3 linked regions of the Homo sapiens genome follow. The protein of the gene in region 3 purifies or fractionates together with the protein of the main gene of each other region. This does not show direct contact. Each region holds a gene or a part of one and is shown on either strand. Other genes may lie near its edges.

Region 1 (3,652 bases), on a different chromosome or scaffold from region 3:
CTCAGGGGCATGAGTGAGCTTCTGCTATGGGAAGAAATCCCTTTGAAGTGGTCTCTGAGAGTATTGTTGTTGGTTGACAGGTTTCCTGGTCCATAAATCACAGACTCATCCAAGGACTGGTTGATAGAATTGTGGCTTCTGCAGATATGGGTGAAGTTCATGTGGATGTTGAGATTTACGATGCCCATGGTCACCAACGAAGCTGCCATCACAGAGGAGCCAATGCAGAGGAATGTTTTGCTGCCGACATGGTCTACAAGAAGAGTGGCAGGGATGGTGCTAATGACCTTGACGACTCCAACCCCAGTGGAGGCGAGGCTAGCTGCCTCATTGCTTTGAAATCCAACTGACTTCAAAACAGTTGATGCATAGAACAATATGTTTGGTTGGCCAGTGATTTGTACAAAAAATACTAGTGTTAGTCCTATCATTATTCGGGTCCGCATGTTGTCTTTTGAACGAAACAGATCCCAAAAACTGTACTGATATTCATCTTTCAGGGAGGATTTGATCACAGTGAGTTCCTCAGTTGTATCTGAGAGTGCTCTTAACCTTCCAAGAACCTTGCTAGCAGCTCCCTCTTGTCCTTTCATCACCAGAAACCGAGGGCTTGGAGGAAGAAAATACATTGCAATTGCTTGCAAAACTCCCAAGGGAATCACAAGACCAAACATGTACTTCCAGCCATGGAAAACATTGGCAAATGCGTAATTTGAAATATAGGCAGAAAGAATGCCGATGACAATCATCAGCTCATTCAGTGACACAAGAAGGCCTCTTCTGTGTTGAGGAGCAATCTCTGCGATGTAAACACAAGTGGCAATGGAAGAGAGGGAGATGGAGACCCCTATGGCAATGCGTCCCACTATAAGAACCGTGTAGGATAAACTGAGGATCAAGACTAAGCTTCCGAGTCCAAGCAGGCAGGATGACAAGATGATTGCTGTCCTTCTTCCATATCTGTCTATCAGGACCCCTCCGGTGAGTGAGGCAAGGAGGGCTCCAATGACGAGGGAGCTCACAACCATTTCCTGCTCATGGCAGCTCAGGGCTAATAAGGTTTTGATCTGAAGAAGAGCCCCAGAGATGATCCCAAGTTCATAACCCACCAGGAGGCCACTGACAGCAGCAGTGACAGATGACAGGAAGGTAAACATGCCGCAGCCTGCAAGCAGAGAGAAGAGACAGGGAGGTCAGTTCTCAGTTGAGATTTTAAACATTTTGTATTTGAGCGGAGATTTAACCTTGTAGAAGTCTTTCATAGCACTGGGTTTAAACGAACACACAATTATGATAAAATAATACACTAACCAAAAAATGATTTGATATAGAAGGAGAAATCATTTTTCTTTCTTTTTTGGGAGGATAGGCATGGAGACATGTAGGAAGTCCAGTTTCCTTCTATTTATGATGTTGATGTTTTTGGTTTAGATCAGACAGTGATGTTGAGATAAGCAGATGACACATGATGAAGACTGAACAAACAAGAACATCATTTGGTTCATGACTTGGCAGTGGATCAGAAATTCAAAGAGCCTGACTCTTTGGTCCCATTCCAGTTCTCTAAAGGCAAATCTTTGAGGGCAGGAGAGAGAGGATAGGAGCCTCTAGAAGTGCTACAGCCTCCTTGCTGGATAGCCTGGGTCAAAATGAAACACAGCCTCCAGGAAACTTGCCCTCTTATCTCCTGGGCCACAGTCGTGCTGCAAATGGCCTCTGCTGAACACATGAGGGTGTTGGGGCAGAGGGTGGAGGTGGGAGTGGGCAGTGTGTGAATGCCTTAACAAAGTCAAGGTTTTGCTAAACAGAAGGAAGGAAGAAATGTATGTAGTGTAAGGAACCAGCAATATCCCTTACTCATTCTGAGTAAGGAGAAAGGGGGATGGAACACAGGCAGAACAAGGAGAATTTACCTTTATATTGTTCTTTCGTTAATGTTCAAATCCAAGGAAAAATGTCAAAAAGTTAGTAACTATTAATTTTTGGTGGTAGGAACACAGATGTTTGTTATATGTTTGCAACTTGTCAAAATAGAAATAAAACAAAACAAAAAAGCAACAGAGGGAAGAGTATTTCAGGCCCAGGAGAAAGTAATTTCCAAGGCCTTAGGACAGGAAAGTTCTCATTATGTTTTAGGAACTGTCAGATGGCCAACATATAACATGTGGGGCACATTGTGAGCCTGGAGCGGTAGGACGGAAAGGGCTTAAAATGAATTTGGATAAGTACAGAGGGGGCACTTCAAGTAGGGCCTTGTCGGTCACAGTGATGACTTTTCATTGTGTTCCAAGTATAATGGAGCCAACACCCACTGAGAGGTGTAGAGGGCATTGACGCTATAGGTTTCTTATTTATAAAGTCCACCTTCACTGCTATGTAGAGATTAGTTCTTCAAAATGCAAGACTGGCAAGACTGGTAGCAGGGAGGAGTTTGTTGCCTTGGTTTGGACAAGAGATAATGGTAGCTTAGACTTGGGTGTTAAGAGTGGAACTGGAGATAAGTAGGCAGATTCAAGACTTATTTTGGAGCTAAAAACCACTACACTTGTTCAGGGCTGGATGTGGTGGCTCACGCCTGTAATCCCAGCACTTTGGGAGGCTGAGGTGGGTGGATCTCCTGAGGTCAGGTGTTCAAGACCAGCCTGGCCAACATGGCAAAACCCCATCACTATTAAAAGTACAAAAATAGCTGGGCATGATGGTTCATGCCTTGTAGTCCCAGCTACTCAGGAGGCTGAGGCAGGAGAATCACTTGAACCCAGGAGGCAGAGGTTGCAGTGAGCTGAGATCATGCCACTGCACTCCACCCCGGGCAACAGAGCAAGACTCCATCTCACAAAAAAACAAAAAACAAAAAACAAACAACAAACAAAAAAAACATTACACTTGTTCAAGAATTGGAGATGGGGGATAAAAAATGGGTCAGAACCCAGGATGGCTCTGTGGCTTGAGCAGGTGGGTGGGTGATTTTACAATATTTGATATACTCAATACAGTACTATATGGGGCCAACACCCATTGAGAGATGTAGAGGGCATTGTACTATATACTGTGTAGCGCAACATACCAACATAGGGAAGATTAGGAATAGAACTGGTTGTGAGTGGTGATAAGAGGAGGGGCAAAAATCAAAAGTTTCATTTTGGACTTAGTAAAATGGTTTATTTATTTTATCTGTAAGACATTCAGGTAAAAATGTTAAGTAGGGGATTGGGTATACAGATTTGGAGCTTAAAGATAGGTCAAGCCTGGACATATGTATTTGGAAGCCAGCAGCACACATTTGGTATTTAAAGCCACAGGAATGGGTGAGATCACTTAGGAAGATAAAATAGGGGAAAAGGAAAAGCATGATCAAGACTGGGACCTAGGCAATGCCAATATTTAGAAGACTAGTGCCAGCAAAGGAGATGGAGAAGAATCAGAACTGAGGTGTAAGTCAAATGTTAGAAATGTGATTACACACACGGTTTTCATAGGCTGAGCTAAGGCTGCCTTTTCGGGGTTGGGGGAGGGTATAGTTAAAAATGCTATTCAGCTCTAGTGAAATAAGCAGGTCAAATAAAGGTGATCTAAAGCTCTACCACAAATACTCAAGGTATTTTCCATCTCCAGGATCCTAGTAGGCTATGGGAATTGGCAGCCCCAAAAA
Region 2 (3,652 bases), on a different chromosome or scaffold from region 3:
TGAGTGTTGGCTACAAGGTGACAGATCAAAGGTGATTTGAAGGACTCAGCCATCCTGTGATGTTGTAAAAGGGATGGTCCAATTCACAAATCTTGAAGCTGATTACACAAGCGATTTCTAGCTGTTTTCTGCTTAAATCCTGTTTGTGTTTCCATAGCAAATATCCACATTGGCCAATGAGTTACGGGACTCTAGATTGGCCAATGACTTACGGGACTCTGGAGCAACCATCAGAATAGGCATCTACATCGGAGCAGGGATCTGTGCTGGGCTGGCTCTGGCTCTTATCTTCGGCGCTTTAATTTTCAAATGTAAGTGTTTTTGTTTCTCTCTCCCTCTGATAACAAATTCTTCAGTGAGAACCAGTAAAAACCTAGATAGAAATGCAAATTCATGTTTATACCCAAAGATGATTAGACTAAATACCCTTTTGTCCATCCAAATCCTAACAATAATGGCTAATTTTTATTTAATATTTATTGTGTGTCAGGCAGCCACTGCGTTAAATGTTTTACATACATTTTATCATCATTACTGTCTTATGAGATAAGGAATAGTACCATCCCCATTTTACAGTGAAGGGAAGTCAAGCTTAGAGTAAGCTGCCTTCCCGAGGTTTCAACATCAGTACCTGGCAGAACCGGAAATCAAATCCAGGCAGGCTGATTCCAGTAAACTAATTTCTTTAATTCATGAATATGTCTAGGTTTGTTACGAAACACAACAACAAAAAACACTTCCTTCTGTGCACTTTTCTGTTATTGGTTTCTCAGGCATACCTCTCTGGCAGTAGACTGCAAGTCCCTTTAACACTGGGTCGTGACTGGGGTTAGAGAATGTTTTCCTCCATCATGGTACTTAGCACATAGCTTTTTCTAAGTTACTTATCCCTTTTTTTTTTTTAAACTAGCAAACAAACAAAAACAAAAAAACAGGCCCGGCGCAGTGGCTCACGCCTGTAATCCCAGCACTTTGGGAGGCTGAGGGGGGTGGATCATTTGAGGTCAGGAGTTCGAGACCAGCTTGGCCAACATGGTGAGACCCCATCTCTACTAAAAATACAAAATTAGCCGGGTGTGGTGGCGCATGCCTGTAATCCCAGCTACTCAGGAGGCTGAGGCAGAGGAATCACTCAAACCTGGTAGGTGGAGGTTACAGTGAGCTCAGATCATGCCACTGCACTCCAGCCTGGGTGACAGAGTGAGACTGTCTTAAAAAAAAAAGTAATAAAATATAAATAAATAAGCAAATAAATAAATAAATAAATACAATGGCCAGGTGCAGTGGCTCATGCCTGTATTTTCAACACTTTCGGAAGCTGAGGTGAGAGGATCAGTTGAGCCCAGGAGTTTGAGACCAAGATCAGCCTGGGCAGCAAAGCAGGATCCTGCCTCTACAACGTAATAATAATAATAATGAGCTGGGCATGGTGGCACACACCTGTAGTCCCATCTACTCAGGAGGCTGAGGTGGGAGGATCACTTGAGCTCAGGAGGCTGCAGTGAGCGGTGATTGCATCATTGCACTCCACCCTGGGCAACAGAATAAGACAGTCTCCAAAAAAAAAAAAAAAAAGAAGTGTGTTGAAGTTGATGAATTTTGATGGAGAATTACAGTAGGAAGCCATCATCACAATCAAGATCTAAATACTTCCAGTACCCCCAAAACCTCGCACACTTTTGTTTTTTTGGAGATGGACGCTGGAGTGCAGTGGCACGATCTCAGCTCACTGTAACCTCTGCCTCCCGGGTTCAAGTGTTTCTCCTGACTCAGCTTCCAGAGTAGCTGGGACTACAGGCATGTACCACCACGCCTGGCTAATTTTTATATTTTTAGTAGAGACAGGGTTTCACCATGTTGGGCAAGATGTTCTTGATCTCCTGACCTTGTGATCCGTCCACCTCGACCTCCCAATGTTTTGGGATTACAGGCGTGAGCCACTGTGCCTGGCCACTCACACACTTTTATAATTGTGTCTATTTTATTTTCTTTTAGGGCAGAAACCAAGTCCTTATGCCCCAGAGCGTAATATGACATAGCAGCCTTTCTTACTAATACACAAACAGGGACTGTGTGTGTAGAGTGAGCAATCACCTCAGATTAGCTCAAGACTAAAGGGTGTTCCTAAGATATATGGGACTTCTAGGGCTAAAACTGGAACAGTCCAAGAAAAACATGAGTTGGTCCCCCCACTAACTGTGGACTGAAGCTGCCAAGTGCTTTACGTGCATTAAATTCTCGTAACTACCCTATGAGATAGGTACTAATATGTTTCTAATGGAGAATCAGCATGCTAAAAGGTTAGGTCACTTGCCTGCATTTACACAGTTAATTGATAGATACTGGATTTGAAACCAGGACTGTCCTGCTCCTCATCTTTATGGTTTCTGCGATTATGGTTAAATGGATTATTCAGAAAAAGAAACTACCCCACCCACACTTACCTGGGTTTATTCAGAGATAGCCATGGAATTTTTGAATTGATCACATGAATATATATATATGTATATATATGTATACACATATATATATATATTTATTATTATTGGGACAGAGTCTTACTCTGTCACCTGGGAGCTGGACTACAGTGGTGTGATCTTGGCTCACTTCAACCTCTGCCTCCTGGGTTCAAGCAATTCTTGTGCCTCAGCCTCCCAAGTAGCTGAGATTACAGGCATATGCCACCACACCTGGCTAGTTTTTTTTTTTTTTTTTTTTTTTTTTTTTTTTTTTTTTTTGGTAGAGACAGGGTTTTGCCATGTTGCCCAGAAAATTGGTCTCAATCTCCTGAGCTCAGGTGATCCTCCTACTTCAGCCTCCCAAAGTGCTGGGATTACAGGCGTGATGAATATATACATATTTAAAAATAGAGGCTGAGCACGGTGGCTTACGCCTGTAATCCTAGCACTTTGGGAGGCCGAGGTGAGTGGATAACCTGAGGCTGGGAGTTTGAGACCAGCCTGACCAACGTGGAGAAACCTCATCTCTACTAAAAATACAAAATTAGCCGGGCATGGGGGCACATGCCTATAATTCCAGCTACTCGGGAAGCTGAGGTGGGAGAATCACTTGAGCCCAGGAGGCGGAGGTTGCAGTGAGCTGAGATCGTGCCATTGCACTCCAGCCTGGGCAACAAGAGTGAAACTCCATCTCAAAAAATAAATAAAATAAAATAAAATAAAAATAGAAATGAGATCTTGCTATGTTGCTCAAGCTGGTCTCAAACTCCTGGGCTTAAATAATCCTCCCACCTCAGCCTCCCAAAATGTTGGGATTATAGGCATGAGTCATTGCACTTAGCCTCACTTGAGTATTTCCAAAACAGACTAGGGATTGTTAAGGAGCACTGATAACACTCACTACTTTTTTGACTTCTGCCATGGCTCAAAGTAAAACTTTGAGCTTTACTATTATATATATTAGAGACCACTTTATATATATATGTGTGTGTGTATATATATATATATATATATATATAATATGACCATAATTTATACATATTAGCACTTATTCTAGTTTGTATAAAGAGTGATGGGATCTAGAGGAAATCTGATGCTTTGTACACACACATATATGCCACTCCAAAAAAACATGGCTACTGAGAAGTACAGATAAGAAAGGCCTGTTTCATTTCCAATCTTTTCCCTGGAAG
Region 3 (3,752 bases):
AGCCCTCCCACGCCGTGATTTTGTACTTCTAGTCTCCAGAACCAGGACAGACCATACATTTCGGTTGTTGAAGCCACTTAGTGTGTGGTACTTCGTTCCAGCAGCCCTTGAAAACAATAGACCACAGAACTTGGGAGGTGCCTGCAGAGGTTCTGGGGCTGAGGGACCGGTTGGAGAAGAGGAAAAAGGAGAGGCAAAGATGACAAAATCACGGATGGGGAGGCGAGATCTGGACAGAAAAACCAGGGATTAGCCAAGCGGGAACCAGTGAAAACGAACGTGGAGTCCATTTTTTCTAGATCTGGAAGATGGAGATCTAAAAGGACTGAGCTGCTAGAGAGGTTGCTGGTGTGTGCGTTGTCCTCACCCCACTGCACCACTGCGCCCAGCACACTGTGGGAGACACCCAGGGAAAGTCCTTCAGTTATTTGTGGGAGTGAACTGCAGTGTGGCTGAGGCCTGGAGCGAACCACGGTCAGTTTCCCCTGCCTGCAGCCCAGGCATAGCCCTGCGTTGGTTGTGCCCACACTCTGGGGGCAGCCTGAGTGCCAAGTGTGGTACTGCTCTCACTAGCATTTAACCTCTGTGCCCCAGCTTCCTCTTCTGTGAAAGGACAGTAATGACAGTACCTACCTCACTGGGTTATGAAGATTAAATAGAATAATGTGTACGCAGTGTTTGTAGCAATGCCTGGCATCAAGCACTGGGTAAACAGTATCTATTATTATCAAAGGCCTTTACGACAACAATCATTCTTCAAACGGCCCTCCAGCGAACGCTGGGCGCAAACTCCACGGTAACGGGGACCAATGTTGTTAGAGGTTGAGGTTCCTGGTAGGTCCCAGGTGCTAAAAGGAAGAGCAGCCTTTGGGATGTGAGCCCGAAAACCATCGTGTTGGCTTCTGAAGCCCCAAGATGGGCATGGCAGGGACGCGGAAGCCCTCAGAACCGCGGAAGCCCTCAGAACCGCACAGCAGGTGGCCGCCGTGGTGCAGCGCGCAGTCGGCCCTCAGCTCCCCTGCACCGGCGCGAGCTGCGGGCGCTGCCCACGTCAGGCTCTGCAGACACCAGACAGAAAAGGTCTTCCGGCCAGGGAGCGTGGGGGAAACCCTGTGGGGCCGCGCCCGTCAGTGTCAAGGAAAAACGGAGAGGAAGGCCCTTGCCTCCAGGGCCCTCGCAGCAGAATTCTGCCCGGCCTGCCAGGAGGCCAGCGGGGCACGGGCTGAGGGTGCAGGATCCGGAGGGCGCCGCCCGCCCCTCGGGCATCGCGGGGCCCAGGGTCCGCGGGGCCTCTGAGCTGAGGCGGTCCAATGTACCCTTTGTCCTTCCTCAGATTCATTATGAAATCCGAGGCAGTCTGGGCGACTCCAGCGGCGTTCGCCCGCCGCAGCCTCTCGACCGCCGGCCACCCGCCAGCCACGCGCGCCCAGACAGGAGGGCGGCCGGGCGCTCGGCGGGGCGGGGCCTGCCGGGGGCGGGGCCTGCGGGCGGGGCGGGGCCGCGGGAGGGCGGGGCCGGCGCGGCGAGCGCACCAGCAGCATCCTGGCTCAGCCGCGGCGGTGGCGGGGGCGCAACCAGCGGGCCGAGGCGGCGGCGCCAGCGGCGCCTTAAATAGCATCCAGAGCCGGCGCGGGGCAGGGAGTGGGCTGCAGTGACAGCCGGCGGCGGAGCGGCCGGTCCACGGAGGAGGTGAGTGCGCCCGCCGTGCGGAGCCGCGCCTGCTCCCGCGGCGGTGCCCGGGCCCCGGCCGAGGCGCCGGCTGACGTTGCCCTTCAGGGCCGAGCCCGGAGCAGCGGCCGCCGCGGAGGCGCGTGAGCCACCCCAGGCTCGTGGGGCCGCGCCGCCTTTCCGGCCTCCTGCCCGCGGCCCCGCTTCCCTCGGCAGCCGGAGGCCTCCGGGGTGCCCGTGCTGCCGCAGCTTCCTGTGTCTGAGTCGCGGGCGGCGCGGGCGCGGGGCTGGTGCGCGGCCGGGGATGCGCGCGGGACCGACCCTTGTGTGTGCGGCGGCGGGGACCGGCCCGGCGAAGCAGCCGGAGGCCGCGCTTCGGCTGGGAGGAGGTGGCCCAGCTGGGCCGCTGACGTTGCCCTCGTCCGCGGCCCCCGCCTGCCCAGAGGCCGGGCTCGCGGGCGTTCGGACCGCGCGTGGGGCGAGACTGCACTCGCGCCCGCTGAGATGCCGGCCCCACGCAGCGCGGCGGCACGAGGCCCACAGGCAGCTCAGAGGCCGCTGCCAGAGGCAGACATTCTCTCGGTGACTCCAGAGGAGTGCCCGTGGCCCTTGCACTTGGCCGTGGAGTCATTGATCTAAGGAGTGCTGGCATTTTTTGAAATTGAGAAGCAAAGATGATGTCTGTCACCTGGCAGCGTAGACGGAGAGTGGCGGTAGATGACTTGAATGGACACGTGGATTCGAGTCTGGGGACAGGCGTTCCCCCAGTCGGTGCGTTGTGAGAGTGTGGAAACCCCTTCCCCACTCAGTCCAATTTCAAGGTTATGGAGCATAATTAAGAGTGACCATTCTAAAAGCGTTCTCTAGTGCCCTGGCTAAGACTTTTAAGCTTCTTGGTGCAGGAGTGTCTAAAGTCCCGCGACTCTCACTGCCCTGTCTTTTATTTTCTTGACCTTTGATTAGCGTTGAGAGAAACTGGTTAAATCTTGCAGTTTCTGCCACCCATTTCACAACTTAACCTGTGATTGTCCCAAAGAAAACAATTATTGGCTTCTTGCTAGCAAAAAAATCAAAGGCTTCCGGTTGATTGTTTCTTTCTTTTTTTTCTTTTTTCAAGTGGACGTGGAAGGTTAGGCTGGCTAAAACTTAAAGTTTGAGTTGTAGGTCTGTGCTGGGTAGGCTTGAGAAGATGGAGCTTTTTAAGGAACCATTGCTCGCCATCAGATTGGAGCCAGACAGTGCAGTGTGATATAGTGGAAAAGGACCAGGTCTTGGGAGACTTACTTTCTTGTTCTGACTCAACTCGGAAAACACCTCCCTAGTCTGAGGCCCCCCTCCTTATATTTGTGAACAAACTGCATTAGACTAAAATCTTTCACGAGTCCAAATTCTGCGACTAGAAAAATAAACTTGTTAGCCGCACACCTTATACCTCTCCCCTTTAAAACAGACATATTAAAGACTTCTGTTTTCTGAATTTACTGTAAACAGAATACTTAAAAAAAAATTACCCAGACAGGCGTGGTGGCTCACTGTAATCCCAGCACTTTGGGAGACCGAGGCGGGCAGATCATTTGAGGTCAGGAGTTCGAGACCAGCCTGACCAACATGGAGAAACCCTATCTCTACTAAAAATACAAATAATTAGCCAGGCGTGGTGGCATGCATCTCTAGTCCCAGCTACTCGAGAGGCTGAGCCAGGAGAATCGCTTGAACTCAGGAGGCAGAAGTTGTGATGAGCTGAGATCCCGCCACTGCACTCCAGACTGGGCAACAGAGCAGGACTCTGTAAAAAACAAAACAAAACAAAAAATTACCCTTCCCCACAATTATAAGCATTTTGGCATATTTCCTTCCTGTCTCTGTTGTTCCTATTTTGGCAGTATTTTTATTGTTATCGCAGGCAGCCTGACTGAAAAGAAATCTGGGCTTCTAAGTTTTTGGTATTTAGGAGGTAGATACAAGTGACCCATGCATGTAGGGTTAGGTATCTATTTATACCATGCAGGTAGAGTTTTCATAGCCACCTCTACTTTTGGGTGAAGTTTAGGCTAACTGAAAGTGTACCAGCATGCATGGTGTAT

What was found.
Region 1: the proteins of ACSL1 (region 3) and SLC2A12 purify together in Homo sapiens (co-immunoprecipitation; one large-scale study listed by IntAct). This does not show direct contact.
Region 2: the proteins of ACSL1 (region 3) and HAVCR2 purify together in Homo sapiens (co-immunoprecipitation; one large-scale study listed by IntAct). This does not show direct contact.

What each region holds. Positions count from the first base shown.
Region 1 is NC_000006.12:134,028,557-134,032,208, forward strand, and holds part of SLC2A12 (solute carrier family 2, facilitated glucose transporter member 12), read right to left. Parts: intron 1,166-3,652; coding exon 1-1,165. UniProt on the Homo sapiens protein: Insulin-independent facilitative glucose transporter.
Region 2 is NC_000005.10:157,091,965-157,095,616, reverse strand, and holds part of HAVCR2 (hepatitis A virus cellular receptor 2 precursor), read left to right. Parts: intron 1-157; coding exon 158-311; intron 312-3,652. UniProt on the Homo sapiens protein: Cell surface receptor implicated in modulating innate and adaptive immune responses. Generally accepted to have an inhibiting function.
Region 3 is NC_000004.12:184,823,853-184,827,604, reverse strand, and holds the start of ACSL1 (long-chain-fatty-acid--CoA ligase 1), read left to right. Parts: upstream 1-1,636; 5' UTR 1,637-1,689; intron 1,690-2,368; exon of another isoform or gene 2,369-2,439; intron 2,440-3,752. UniProt on the Homo sapiens protein: Catalyzes the conversion of long-chain fatty acids to their active form acyl-CoAs for both synthesis of cellular lipids, and degradation via beta-oxidation. Preferentially uses palmitoleate, oleate and linoleate.